Linked DNA regions of Homo sapiens. The protein of the gene in region 2 purifies or fractionates together with the protein of the main gene of each other region. This does not show direct contact. Each region holds a gene or a part of one and is shown on either strand. Other genes may lie near its edges.

The links. The genes of interacting proteins can lie anywhere in the genome.
Region 1: the proteins of THEM4 (region 2) and GSTT2B purify together in Homo sapiens (affinity purification with mass spectrometry, with the first as the bait; 2 studies listed by BioGRID). This does not show direct contact.

Annotation. Positions count from the first base shown.
Region 1 is NC_000022.11:23,958,193-23,966,037, forward strand, and holds the start of GSTT2B (glutathione S-transferase theta-2B), read right to left. Parts: upstream 3,004-7,845; 5' UTR 2,940-3,003; coding exon 2,828-2,939; intron 2,190-2,827; coding exon 2,102-2,189; intron 510-2,101; coding exon 359-509; intron 267-358; coding exon 93-266; intron 1-92. UniProt on the Homo sapiens protein: Conjugation of reduced glutathione to a wide number of exogenous and endogenous hydrophobic electrophiles. Has a sulfatase activity.
Region 2 is NC_000001.11:151,871,494-151,878,512, forward strand, and holds part of THEM4 (acyl-coenzyme A thioesterase THEM4), read right to left. Parts: intron 5,633-7,019; coding exon 5,508-5,632; intron 3,436-5,507; coding exon 3,395-3,435; 3' UTR 1-3,394. UniProt on the Homo sapiens protein: Has acyl-CoA thioesterase activity towards medium and long-chain (C14 to C18) fatty acyl-CoA substrates, and probably plays a role in mitochondrial fatty acid metabolism. Plays a role in the apoptotic process, possibly via its regulation of AKT1 activity.

The DNA of each region.
Region 1 (7,845 bases), on a different chromosome or scaffold from region 2:
GCAAAGTTCTGGCTTTCTCCAGGCCTCAGTGTTTCTGTCTGCCTCATGGGTGTGACACGAAGAGGGACACTGCCCACAGGCTGAGCTCACACCTGCATCAGCTCCTCCAGGGCCATGAGATCAGCCAGTGTCACCTGCTGGCCAGCGAGGAAGGGCCTGTCCCCCAGGAACTTGTCCTCCAGCCATTGCAGGGCCTGGTCCATGGCAGTCCTGTTGCGTTCCACCTTCTCCTCGGGCACCTGGACCCCAATGAGTGGCCCCAACACCTGATGGGGGCAGAGAGTGGGTCAGTCTATGGCCCCGGCCTACTGCCAACTACTCCCTGATGGCCAATCACTCTCCAGATGGCTCTCCTCACCTGGACCCACAGGGGTATACCAAAGGTGCCACGGATGCAGTCGGCATGCCAGCCCAGGTACTCATGAACACGGGCACGAGCCTGCAGGTCAGATGGATACCAGTGGTCCGGCGTCTGGTACTTACAGCTCAGGTAAATCAGGATGGCCGAGCTGGGAACAAATGGGCAGTGGCTATAAGGACACTGGCACCAGGCATTTACCCCTAACTGCTCCCATCTGCCAGTGGGGCCCGGGGGCTTCTCTGCATTTGAAGGACTGCCCTCCAGCCTCGCCCTCCATCTCCAGCTCCCCAACACCACCCCCTCCTCCTACGAGTCTCCTCCTGTCTTTGTTGCCTTGGGCACCGACTCTTGGCTGGACCTTCTGCTTTGCATTTTGAGAACCTCATCTCTGTGATATGCCAGCAGCCGCCCTGTGAGGTAGACACTCCTGTTAGCCTTTTAGCACAAGAGAAAACTCAAGGTCAGAATGGTCAAGTGACTTGTCCGAGGCGGTGCAGCTCAGAATAGGCTCCCTGGACCCCTGGAACCCTGCATGGGGCTGGCACACAGTGGATGCTCCGTGGAGTCCCTTGCATGTCCACGCGCTTGGGTCAGGGATCACGAGGGGAGGAATGTCTTTGGCCCCCGTCTGACAGGCCCCCAGCCATCACTTCTGCAGCCACCTGACCTCTTGTCCTTTTCCTGCCCAGCAGCTGGACCTCACCATGAGCTGTGCCCTTGGGCCATGGCATTGGCCTCTAGGCCCGGCCTGGGTAGATTGGGTAGTCTGCAACAAGTCACTAGAGGCTCTTTTCAGCTAGCATTTGTTGAACAAATGCGCAACAGTGGAAAAATGTTCCCTTGTCTTCTCTTCTAATACCCTTCAGTCTGGGAGTGGAGAGGCCCTGCGGCTCAGAAAAGGCTGGAAGATGAGAGGTGGGGGGACATGTTCTGTCAGCCCCTGCTCATCCCGGTCACACCCCAAGCTGTACCTTCTCCCCAGATACCTCTCCTTTCTTTCTTTCCTTTTTTTTTGAGACGGAGTCTCCCTCTGTCGCCCAGGCTGGAGTGGGCTCCCTCTGTCACCCAGGCTGGAGTGCAGTGGTGCTATCTCTGCTCATTGCAAGCTCCGCCTCCTGGGTTCACGCCATTCTCCTGCCTCAGCCTCCCCAGTAGCTGGGACTACAGGCGGCCGCCACCACGCCCTGCTAATGTTTTGTATTTTTAGTAGAGACAGGGTTTCACCGTGTTACCCAGGATGGTCTCGATCTCCTGACCTCGTGATCCGCCCACCTCGGCCTCCCAAAGTGCTGGGATTACAGGCGTAAACCACCGCGCCCGGCCTTTTTGAGACGGAGTCTAGCTCTGTCGCCCAGGCTGGAGTGCAGTGGCGCGATCTCAGCACACTGCAAGCTCCGCTTCCTGGGTTCACACCATTCTCCTGCCTCAGCCTCCAGAGTAGCTGGGACTACAGACGCCCGCCACCACGCCCGGTTAATTTTTTTTCCATTTTTAGTAGAGACGGTGTTTCACGGTGTTAGCCAGGATGGTCTCGGTCTCCTGACCTCGTGATCCGCCCGCCTTGGCCTCCCGAAGTGCCGGGATGACAGGCGTGAGCCACCGCGCCCGGCCAGATCCCTCGCCTTTCCCCTCCCTCGCTGCCCCATGGGGTATGGGAGGGCCACTGGGGCCCGGGGCCAGTGGGGAGAGCCAAGGTCACATGGGCTCCGGATGCGGTGAGGGGTGAGGGAAGGAGGGCACCTTTCGGTCAAGATGAAATCACCATCCTTGAGCGTCGGCAGTTTCCCCAGGCTGTTGATCTGCAAGAACTCCTTGCTCTTGTGCTGCCCTGAAGAGGAAGAAGTCAGAAAAGGTCTTCAGAATAAAAACGCTGCACCTCTACACCCTCCCTCCTCCTCCCCAAGCGGAGCCCCACAGCCCTGAGAAACAGCAAGGTCTGGGACTAGAGGCCTGGATCAGCCTCACTCCCTGGCTGGGCCTCCCTGCCCTGCCACATTCCGGGGCAGCTGGGGGGCTTTGGTGGGTGGGGCCAGGTGCAGCAGGTGGATAAAGAGAAGTTTTCTAGCCGGACTCTGGTGGGCCAGGGGAGGGGAGGCAAACTGGGGTGGCTCATCTCTTCCCATCTCTTAATTCTCACAACAGCATGTCCTTCTTCCCAAGGTCTTCTGGGCTTTGTGAATTTATATGCGTGCATTCCACGCAAGAACTCTGTCAACTCCATTCAGTATTTTCTTTCCATCCCTACAGAGCAGAAGGTAACATTATCCTCCTTTTCAGAAGGCAAGCTAAGGTTCAGAGAGGCTGTGATCCCTCCAAGGCCACTCAGTCCACAGCATTCTCTGGTGGCAGACGCTGCAGGAGGAGGTGAGGGGGCTGTGCGGGCGGCGAGACGCTCAGGGCAGAGCAGGGCGGGGGCCTGGGGGTGCACTGGGTTTGTGGACACGCGGGGAAACGGGCTGGGCCCACCTTTGACCAAATCCACGGTGCGCAGCTCTAAGGGGATGCCATTCTTCTTGGCGAAGATGTAGACGGCGCGGCTGGGCTGGGACACCAGGTCAAGAAACAGCTCTAGGCCCATGGCGGGGGCGGCAAGGACAGCGGGGATGGCAGTGAAGGCGCTGAGCGCGGTGTGGGCAGCAGCTGTGGCAGGATCCCGGCGCGCCGGGAAATAGGGGATCAGGCCCCACCCCCTGGGGACAGCACCCAATTGGAGCGCACCACCCCCGGACCCGCCTCGCCCCTTCGGTTCCTGTCCAGTCCTGCCGGCCAAGACTCCACCACCAGATCCGTGCGTCCCTACAGGGAGGGCGGTCGCTATGAACGCACAGCTGGGAGGGTGGAGTTGGAGCTGGGGACCCTCGACTGGCAGGGAGGACGCGGATGCAGGGGGCCGACTGCAAGGGGAAGGGGAACCGGCTGGACAGGGAGAAGCAGGTCTGCTTTTCGGGATCCCGGTGCCAGGGACCCTGCCCAGTTCCAGGCGTCGCCCTGACCCAGAAACGACTGGGCGCCGCCGTCCTGGAAAGGCCCCAGCGCACGGACATCTGAGGGTTCGTTCAGAGCTCTGTTTCTCGGCGCTGCATGGTGGCGGAAGGGAGGGAGCGAATGGGATCCCCTAAAAGGGATCTTAGAGTTTCACCCAGTGGGATGTGACACTTGCAGGTGTCCCAAACTGGTGGGAACCTTGACTGGAAGGCTGGGGTTAAGGATGAACTTTCTGCCGTCCAGACTGTCCCCTGCAGAGCAGCTGCTGCCAGACAGCGGGAGCTGCCAGACAGCGGGAGCTCCCACTTCGTGCACAGGATGGGGGCAGGGAGCCCGCAGCCGCGGGAGGCAGGAATGACTGTCCGGGAACCTCCTTTCTTCTCCCTGAATCCCAGCCCTGGCATCTCACCAGGGGGCACAGTGATGGTCCAGGGCTGGGCCCGGGACTCTAGCTGAATCTTTCAGAGTATCCCATCCCTCTGGCCAGTGGCCCAAGCGAGTGAACCAGAATGCTTCCTTGGGAGTTTTGAAACTGGAACTGGAGAGAGGAGCTCCCTATGGGGAGGTAAACGGGAGCTGGGGCCACCTGTAGTGACATTTCCTGAGTTCGAGGAGTAGACGAGACTGAGAGAGAAAAGCTGACTCAGAGAAAGGGAGTGATAACAGGGCATGCTGGCCCACACCTGCAATCCCAGTTACTCTCACGGGATCTGTTTCTCTGATGTCTGGGTATGAAAGGACTTTCTAAGCCTCAGAACAGTGGGAGAACTCAACAAAGAAAAAACCAATACATATACAAGGTTACTTTGTGGAGGAAAAAATGGATTAACCTTAAGCAAAAAACTGGGAAGGATCTCGGTAAAAGATACGTCAGAAGGAAGTAATGTCCTTTAAGATGTTCTTAGAAACCCATCAGACAGGTAGGGTGTGGTGGTTCACGCCTGTAATCCCTGTACTTTGGGAGGCAGAGATGGGCGGATCAGTTGAGGTCAGGAGTTTGAGACCAGCCTGGGCAACACGGTGAAGCCCCGTCTCTACTAAAAATACAAAAATTAGCTGGGTGCGGTGGCACACTCGGGAGGCTGAGACAGGAGAATCACTTGAACCTTGGAGGCAGAGGTTTCAGTGAGCTGAGATCATACCACTGCACTCCAGCCGGGCCACTGAGCGAGACTGTCTCAAAACAAACAAACGAACAAACAAAAAGAAGAGAAACTCATCAGACGAAGACACAGGAAAAAAATGAGCGAAGGAAATCAGCAGAGGTTTCATTGAAGGACAAAGAGAAATGGTCAATACATGGATGAAAACATGTTTAACTTCAGTAATAATCAAGGAAGCACACACCAACACAACATGCACATACTGTTTTTATTTATCAAAGGCACACATATTTTTGAAATGAGTACTCCTAATTAATATGTACAGAGCACTTACCCAGTGCCCAGCACAGGGGTGGCACCCTGTGTGTGAGACAGCATGAAACAGGTAGACACGCGCCCTGCTGAAAGTAAGGGACCGCCTCTCTGGAGGATCCATCGGGCAATAAGGAGGTTTCCACACCTTAACTGTGTCTGCCTTGACCTCTGGGGCCTGGGAGCAGAGCCCCCTCCAGCTGGTGGGGAAGGAAGCGTGGTGTGTTTGAGGACAGAATGGAGAGAAGTTGAGTAGAGCAAGTGTAGACTCTTCCTATCCAAAGTGTGGTCAATGGACTGGGAGTATCAGCATCACCAGGGAGCTTGTTGGAAATGCAGAGGCTCAGGCCCCACTCTGACCTTACTGATTGGGAGCATAAACTGTAACCAGATTCCAGGGAGGATTCATACACACATTCCCGTTTGATAAGTGGGGGGTAGTAGGAGGTGAGGTGAAAAGTGGGGAGGGGATGGCTACCGCACTGGAGAAGGCTGGCTTTGTGTTGAGGCCTTTCTCATGAGGGCAGTGGGGAGCCATGGAAGGCTTTATGCAAGAGAGGGTACGGGCAGATTGAGATTACAGAAGGATCCCACTGGTTGCCTTGTGTGAGGACCCAGGGAGAAGGGGGAGGCTGTCCCTGTTTGAGTAGGAGATGAGAGCTACTGGTGGCTATGAGTGGAAAGAAGTGAGCAGAGGTGAGCAGAAATCCCAAGGACTGGTGATGATAGGATGATGGTGGGAACCAGGATGGGCTTTGGGCAGACCCTGACCCCTCTCTCTGCCTGTCGGCCCACCAGATAATAATCCCTGTGTTCCTGGGCGAGTCAGTGCCACCCGAGATGTTGGCGGCCACTTTGGCTGAGCTGGACGGATGCTTGCAGCTGCTCGAGGACAAGTTCCTGCGGGACCAGGCCTTCCTTACTGGGCCCCGTATCTCTGTGGCTGGCTTGGTGGCAATCACGGAGCTGAGGCATGAGAGTGCCATGGGGTGCGGTGGCCCGCTGGGCAGTGGTGTATCCGGGAAGGGAGCTGACATCCCAGCTCATGTTGTCTTTTCTGGCTGTGGGACCCTGTGTGAGTCACTTCTCCTTCTGAGCCTCAGTGTCCTCATCTATAAAATGGGGCTTTACAAACCCCTCACCGCAGCTATATTAAGAGGCTTCCAAGTGTCCCCAGGGAGGGGGACATCCTAGCCCATCACACACATGGTGGAGGAGGGAAAATCCAATCAGAGAACCCCTAAAGCAGGTCATGCTGCCTTACACTTGGCTATGCCCAGCCCCTCCGCTGACTCTGTCTTCCCCTAGCCCATCAGTGCTGGCTGCTGAGTCTTTGAAAGCGGACCCACGGTGGCAGCATGGTGCCCAACACGTGGAGGCTGCAGTGCGGGAGGACTTCTTCCAGGAGGCCCTCCCAGCTGTCCTGAAGGCCAAGGACCTGCCTCCAGTAGAACCTGCTGTTAAAGAGAATCTGAAGACCTTAATGCAGCTTTTCTTGCTGTGAGTGCGTGTCCCACACTTGCTGAGCCACTGAGGGGATGCTGTGTTGGTAGAATAAAGACATGGAGCTGTCCGTCTCCTTGGTTGAAGAGAAGACATATCTGCAAAGGCTCTGGTCCACAGTTCCTCCAGATATCATGCCTGCATTCCTTTTGTCTCCTACCCCATTCCATTCTAGCTTCCATGTGACCTCTGAAAAGAGCTTGGGCAAACGCTTACTTGACCCTGACCTTCTGTGTGGAACTTTGTATGGTTCCTCACTGCCCAGAAGCTAAAGTACAAGTCATTGAACTTTGCATTCAAGGCCTTGCTCCCACTCCTCCAGGTGGCCCCTTCTGCCTGCACACTCCTAACCCCTCTCTGGGCTCCCACCTTGGCCTCTTGGCCTCCGCTCATGCTGTTCCCTCCTCATCTTCGCCTGGTGCCCTTCCTGGTCTTTTGGCATTTGGCACCCTGTCTCTTCTCCAGGGAGACTTCCCTGACCTCCCCAGCCCCAGTCCAGGTCAGGCGACCTCTCTGGGCTCCTCAGCCCCAGTGTTTCCTTGCGGGGGATACCCCCGGACTGAGCATGTATCATCGATGAGGGGTGACCTGGTGGAAAGATGTCTGAATCAGGATCAGCCTTGGTCTCCTCGGTCTCTCTCCTCACTGTGGGGCGATGTTGTGTTCCACAAGTGGGGTGCAGGGCTGGTTCATGAACCTCCTTGCAGGAAGGGAAGTCCCTGGTTATTTCCTGGCCCTCTCCCATGCCTCCTCATAACCTTGACCACAGTCTTCTCTACACCCCACTCCCGGACCACTGGCTTGTCCATGCCCCACACCTGGTCCCAGACTTGCCACCTGTCCCTGCCCTCTCCCCTTAGGACTGTCATATTTACCTGTCGTGTGTCTCAGACCTTCTGATATCTGAGTCATCTAATAAACAAACTGCTAATAGGACAAGATCATGACAGACAGAGACTCTGTCGGCCTTTCAGTGGAGGCTCCTTTAAGTATGCACACTTATAGAGAATTTTATACACGTAGTTGAAATTGTACATATAAACTTGCAAATTTTTTCTTTCTTTTTTGTGGGGGAGGGGGGAGCCTGGGTCTCACTCTGTCATCTAGGGTGGAGTGCAGTGGCACAGTCATAGCTCCCTGCAGCCTAGATCTCCTGCGCTCAAGCAATCCTCCTGCCTCAGCCGCCCAGGTAGCTAGGACTACAGGCACACACCACAGCACCCAGATTTCTTTCTTTTTTTTTTTTTTTTGTAGAAAATAAAGAAGAGAATCTTGCTATGTTGCCTAGCCTGATCTTTAACTCCTGGGCTCAAGCAATCCTCCCTTCTTAGCCTCCCAAAGTGCTGAGATTACAGGTGTGAGCCACATTGCTCGACCACAACTTCAATCATATTTGTAATGTACAATTCAAGTGATTTTGCCACACTGACCACACTCATGTTTAAGCCACGCCAACAGAGTTCCATGTTTTCTGATGTTTTTTCGAGATGGAGTCTCGCTCTGTCACCCAGGCTGGAGTGCAATGGCGCGATCTCGGCTCACTGCAACCTCCACCTCCCCGGTTCAAGCGATTCTCCTGCC
Region 2 (7,019 bases):
ACATACTTGTCAAAATACAACCTGAGGAAAGCAAGAGTGCCAGGGCATGGTGAAGGCTAGGAATAGTCTGCTGCAAAGCAGGGAAGCCATTTTTCCCTCACTGGCTATGGGGAACCCTATGTTAACAGTGACTGAGCTTTTTCCTTAGTTGATCTTGTGCAGCATCTAACCTGGATGTGAGCAAACCAGTGTAAGAAATGAAACTGTAAAGGGAAAAAAGTGGATACGAAGGGAGGCAGGCATACTTAACATGAAGAAAACCTGGTCATTTGGCACTCTTTCAGTTAGGTTCTTTCACTTGGCTGGAGGTCTGGTGTGCCATAGCAGTTCTGCAAGCCTGCCAGAGAAATCTAACGATGAGAGTACAGTACCTTCATTGTCTAAACTTCCTCCCAACTAGTTAAGTGAAACTAGCTAAATGAGCAGCGCTGGCTTATTCCTTCGGAGTCATATTTTTTAACATGTGAAATATAATTATTGTAAGAGTCCACTCTCTTAAGTTTCAGGATTTGTTGGAAGACTGGGAATAGAGGGTGGCCATTGCCAGACCTGTAACTTGTAGAGCTGTGAGCCCAGCCATCTCCTGGGGCACTTTCCCAGGCTCTCTCAGAATTTCTGGGAGAAGGAACTGCCAGCTTCACCCCTGCAGTGCCCCCATGTCTGCTGGGCCCTTGCAACTTGAGAACTGGAGTTGGGCACTAGAGACAGGGCTTCCAGGATGTGGGTCTTCCTCTGGCTTGGCCATCCCAGGTCAGTCAGCTCTGGCAATGGAGGGCTCCAGCTGATCTTTTGGCTGTGGAAGGATGACTGGGTAGGGTACCACAAGGCTGTCCCTAAGTTATTAGGTTGAACCATAGGAAATTGTCAATATTTGACCATTCTGTTCTTCGAAATAGTGATTTCATATGGTTCAGCTTAAATTTCTAATATGGGGAAAGAAAGGAAAGAAATGGAAGCCCAAATAATCTATTGCCTGCACTAGGAAGCAGAATATATTTTCCAGAACATTAGTCTCTGTAGGGAAAAGAGAGATCAGACTGTTACTGTGTCTATGTAGAAAGGAAGACATGAGAAATTCCATTTTGATCTGTTCTAAGAAAATTGCTTTGCCTTGAGATGCTGTTAATCTGTAACTTTAGCCCCAACCCTGTGCTTACAGAAACATGTGCTGTATGGAATCAAGGTTTAAGGGATCTAGGACTGTGCAGGACGTGCCTCATTAACAGTATGTTTACAGGCAGTATGCTTGGTAAAAGTCATCGCCATTCTCCATTCTCAATTAACCAGGGGCAAAATGCACTGTGGAAAGCCGCAGGGACCTCTGCCCAAGAAAGCCTGGGTATTGTCCAAGGTTTCCCCCCACTGAGACAGCCTGAGATATGGCCTCCCGGGAAGGGAAAGACCTGACCATCCCCCAGCCCGACACCCGCAAAGGGTCTGTGCTGAGGGGGATTAGTAAAAGAGGAAGGCCTCTTGTGGTTGAGATGAGGAAGGCCTCTGTCTCCTGCATGCCCCTGGGAACAGCATGTCTTGGTGTAAAACCCGATCCTATGTTCGTTCCATTCTGAGATAGGAGAAAACCACCCTGTGGCTGGAGCCAAGATACGCTGGCGGCAATGCTGCTGTTACTCTTTGCTACACTGAGATGTTTGGGTGGAGAGAAGCATAAATCTGGCCTACGTACACATCTGGGCATAGTACCTTCCCTTGAACTTATTTGTAACACAGATTCCTTTGCTCACAGATTTTCCTGCTGACCTTCTCCCCACTATCACCCTGTTCTCCTGCTGCATTCCCCTTGCCGAGATAGTGAAAACAGTAATCAATAAATACTGAGAGAGCTGAGACTGGGGCCGGTGCGGGTCCTCTGTATGCTGAGCACCGGTCCCCTGGGCCCAGGGTTCTTTCTTTATACTTTGTCTCTGTGCCTTATTTCTTTTCTCAGTCTCTCATCCCACCTGATGAGAAACACCCACAGGTGTGGAGGGGCTGGCCCCCTTCAACTCTCCGTTCATTTTTTAGTTTTGTTGAGGCTCTTTTACAGGTTGAATTGTGTCCTCCCAAAAAAGGTATGTTGTGGTCCTAATCTCCAATACCTCATAAGGTCACTTTATTTGGAAATACATTTTTTACAGAGGTAATCAAGTTAAAATGAGGTCATTCAGGTGGGTCCATTATGACTGGTTTCCTTATAAAAAGAGGAGACTTGGACACAGAGATAGATCTGCACAGAGGGAAGACACTGTGGAGACACACAGAGGGAATGCCATGTGAAGATGGAGGACTGGAATGATGCATCTAGAAGCCAAGGAACACCTGAGGCTCCCAGAAGCCAGGAGGGAGGCGTGGACAGCTCCTTCCCTAGCACTTTCAGGAGAATGGCCTTGGTCAACACCTTGATTTTGAACTTCTGGCCTCCAGAACTGAGAGACAATGAGTTTTTGTTGGTTTAAACAATCCAGTTTGTACTACTTTGCTACAGCAGCCCTAGGAAATGAACACAGGCTCCTTCCAGTGATGAAAACCTATGCTGTTGGTAAGAAACAACAGTACAGCCTGGGTTAAAAATGGCACAGTGGTTTAATCTCTAGAATCTCAGACAACAGATTTGAGGTATTCATTCCTATAGGATCTGGCTGTGCTTCCTACACTGACCAAAAAAGATTCATGTGTTCAGATACAACAAAGCTAGCTTTCTAACTTACTAACTTACAATGTATATGCATATGCACATGCCTGTGTGTTTCCCACCATGTATTTATTCTTCATGCTTGGTTTTCTAGCATTTTCAAGTTTGCAGTAAAAGGTTCAATACACATTTATTTCTCTAGTCTGCAGTGGAGCAGGTAACATATCCTAAGGAGACAAGAGTTTTTTTTTTTTGTTTGTTTGTTTGTTTGAGATGGGTTCTTGTTCTGTTGCCCAGGTTGGAGTGATGTGGCATGATCTTGGCTCACTGCAACCTCTTCCTCCTGGGTTCAAGCAATTCTCCTGCCTCAGCCTCCTGAGTAGCTGGGACTACAGGCGTACGCCACCATGCCTGGATAATTTTTTGTATTTTAGTAGAGACGGAGTTTCATCGTGTTGCCCAGACTGATCTTGAACTCCTGAGCTCAGGCAATCCGCCTGCCTCGGCCTCCTAAAGTGCTGGGATTATAGGTGTGAGCCACAGCGCCTGGCCCGAGAGTTGTCGATATGCTCGCAGGAAGTATTTCTGTGTTAAAAAGTTGAGAAGATGGAAACTGAATCCTCTTTGTATTCAGAAGGCTGTTTCGGAAGGTCACTGTTGGCAGGCTTCTCCCTACAGGGATTCAGCAGTGAGGGAGCAGAGTATTTGGGGGACAACTGCTTCTTCTGGAGGGGCGAGAATGAGATGGAGTTCACCAGCAGCTCTTTATGTCAGACTTTTAGCAGGATTCAGCTTTATAAATAAGCCTAAACAAACAAAATAACAGCAGATGATTATATGTCAACTGACTTCAATTTGATGGACTACTCTAAATAGAAAGACATATACAAAAGAAGGATTTGATTCACATTTGTAGCTTCAGTCTATCTGTCCACTCTCATTTTTCAGCCAAATTAAGAATCAGCTTTTGACTATCACAATACTGTATTACTTCTCCCTGGGTAACCAGGTCCTCACCACTTGGCCATTTCATGGTTCCTCACTACTTCCATTAGAAATGAAAAGAACTAAAATTACAAGTGAGCCATCTGGCACCTTTATGATATTGAAAGGTTTAGTGAGACAGGAAGTACAAACCACAGCCTGGAATGGAGTTCTTAAATTGACTGTGGATTTAAGTTATTATCTTCCACCTGCTCCTTAAATCCATCATTCCTGCAAATGCTTCATACTTAAGAGGAAAAATAAATTTCTTAAACAAGATACAAAAAAATTAGCCATAAAGGGAAAAATGTAATAAATGCAACTAAATTGACATTAAAAATTTCTGTTCATAAAGAAGATACCTTAAAGCAAATAAAAGACAACTTACACACTGTAAGGAGGTATGTGCAACTTATATATCCAACAAAAAATTGTTCTAATAGAAAATATATAAAGAACATCTATAAATCAGTAAGAAAATGAGAACAAATGGAAAAAAAGCTGAACAAACAAAAATTTCACAGAATGGGAAAAAATATGGTCAATAAACATATGAAGAGACACTCAACCACACAGGTAATCAGAGAAATGCAAATCAAGATCACACCGAGAAGTCATTTTATAGTCATTTGACTGGCAAAAATCATGAAGTCTGACTTCACTAATTGCTAGAGAAGATGGGAATCTAAAGAATCTCATATATTGCTGGTGGGAGTTTAATTTGGTACAGGCTTAGAAAACAATTTTGCATTCCTCTGTAAAGCTGAATACTCACAATACTCTACCACCCAGAAATTCTGTTCCTAAGTATATGCCAAGCTCTTGCCCATGCACACCACCAGGAGACATGAACAAGAATGTTTATAGCAGCCCCATTTGTAATAGTCAGAGGCCTGTCACTGGAAGAGAGACATTCATTGTGGGACAGTCACATATGGAGTATTACACAGTGGTACAAACAAGTGAACACAGCCAACAACATGGATGAACCTCAGTACTCCAGGGAAGTAACAGGTCATGTGTGTGACTTTCCTGAGACAGTCTACACACACATAAATATAGACATATTTTTCTTATTTATGGTATCACAATATTTCACCATTTTTTAATGGCACACACATACAATATAGTTCATAGGTGAGCTGTAGTTCTTTAACCAGTCTCCTATTGATGGATAGCTATGTTTGCTACGTTTTGCCATTTTTCTTGCTATTGCAAATAATGTTGCATGAGTGACACAATCACTGGAACCCGATAGCAATCTAACACATTATAATTTTGCAGTTATTATACCTGTGAGATAAAGTCCTGGAGGTGGGTCAAAGGGCATATCACTTTGTAAATTTTTTTTTTTTTTTTGAGACAGGGTCTGGCTCTGTCACCCAGGCTGGAGTGCAGAGGTGCGATCTCAGCTCACTGCAACCTCTGTCTCCTGGGTTCAAGGGAGCCTCCCATCTCAGCCTCCCAAGTAGCTGGGACTACAGGCGCACACTACCATGCCCCGCTAATTTTTTGTATTTTTTGTAGAGATGGGGTCTTGCCATGTTGCCAAGGCTGGTCTCGAACTCCTGGGCTCAAGTGATCCTCCCACCTTAGCCTACCAAAGTGCGGGGACTACAGGCATGAGCTTATGCATTGGGCTGTAATTTTGATAGCTGTTGGCAACTTGCCCTTTACTAGCAATGTATAAGAATATCTTTAACTTGTTCTTTGTATGACAGGGAATTAAGAATTTTTTGGCATGTATGGGTTATAATACCAGGGCAAAAAACCAAACCAAACCAAAACACCCCCCTGACCCCCACAAAACCCAAATCAACCAACCAACCAACCAACCAAAACTCCCAACCCAACCCAACTAAACCCCAAGAAAGAGATAAGACCAGCTTCTTACTTGTCGCCTCTGAGTATAGGGTCTTCTCATCAACACTCTGAACATTACAGGAAACAAAAAATTTCCTTCCTTCAACTTTATCAAGTTGGCTATTTATCATAACAACAGAACAAAGAGGGATAGGTCTGCAGAATAAAATGAAAAAGGAAAAAAATCAGTTTTTATCTGACTTATATAACATTAAAAGATGATCAAGTACATGACAAGGGATAGAAATTTATGACACCTGACAACAATGAGCACTGACTGCCTTAGACAATACATTCCTCAAGGACTCTGACACCAACAGCCTCTCAAGCTCCCCCTCTCCCAAGCACCACTGCTCTCAGGTGGCTCCTGGGCTACAGTCCCTGGATGTCTCTCTGGGCTTGTTTCAAAGGGATCATCAGGAATTCCAGCTCTGTGATGGCAGAGACTATCCCATCTGGAGATCCACTGCAAAGTCCTAAGGGAGCTGAAATGCTTTAAAGAAGTGAAAATAGGGCCAACAGATGGTCCCAGGCAGCTTCTCTCATTTCTTCTGTCATAATCAACATTTCTCATTCAATTCTGAGTAATGGTCACTAGAAAGACACCTAATAACAACAAATTGCTGATAACAGCTTACTGCTCTAAGTCAGTACTGTCCAATAGAACTTTCTGTGATGATACAAATGTTCCATATCTGAGCTGTCCAACCTGGTAGCCACATGTGCCTAATGAGCACTTGAAATGTGGCTAGCATAACTGAGAAGTTGAGTCCTTAAATTTATTTAATTTGAATTAATTTATACTTAACTTTAAATAGCTACATGTGACTAGTGGCTACAGACGTTTCTGGGAATCCTGGAGAAACATATCACAATGAAAGGATATCTCTTTAAAAGTGAAATTTCAGTTGGTTGAAACAGAAGGTAGAGCACGGAAACGTGTTTCGTGCTCCTATGGTACTACCAAGCAGATGATGGAACTACCCCAGGTAGAAAGGAAGTTATCACTGTGATGATCTCTCTGCCCAGTTTTCCTTTCAATGAACTTTTAATACTTCCACTCCCATTAGCTTTTCCTTTGCTCTTTTGTTGAGTCAATTCAACATTTACTAAGACCCAGGGGACATTAGGTGTTCTCGCCTGCCCAGCAACTCCCTTTTCTACTAACATGACTCTCTTCATTTATCCATCCCCTACCCTCCCTTCATTCTCTTCATATCTCTCTCTTTGATATACTCATGTACCCCTTTTGTCAGGGAACCACCTCTCCCTCATTCTTAGCCCATGTAGGTTGACTGGCATTGAATAATGATCCCTCCACTCCACACACACATAGTGACCAGTTGTGGGGGTGGGCACAGGCTGAAATAGTCAATCCTGGAACTTGTGCTGTAGCCCTTGGGGCTGGGTTCTTTTTCTCTGAGGCGCTAGGCTTACAAGACATAAGCCTGGCTGGCCTGGCTGGTGGCCATTGTGCCACTACACTGGGAAAGGCTACGTAAGGATGAAGCAGATCTAGAAGAAAATGTGGCTGAGATTCCTA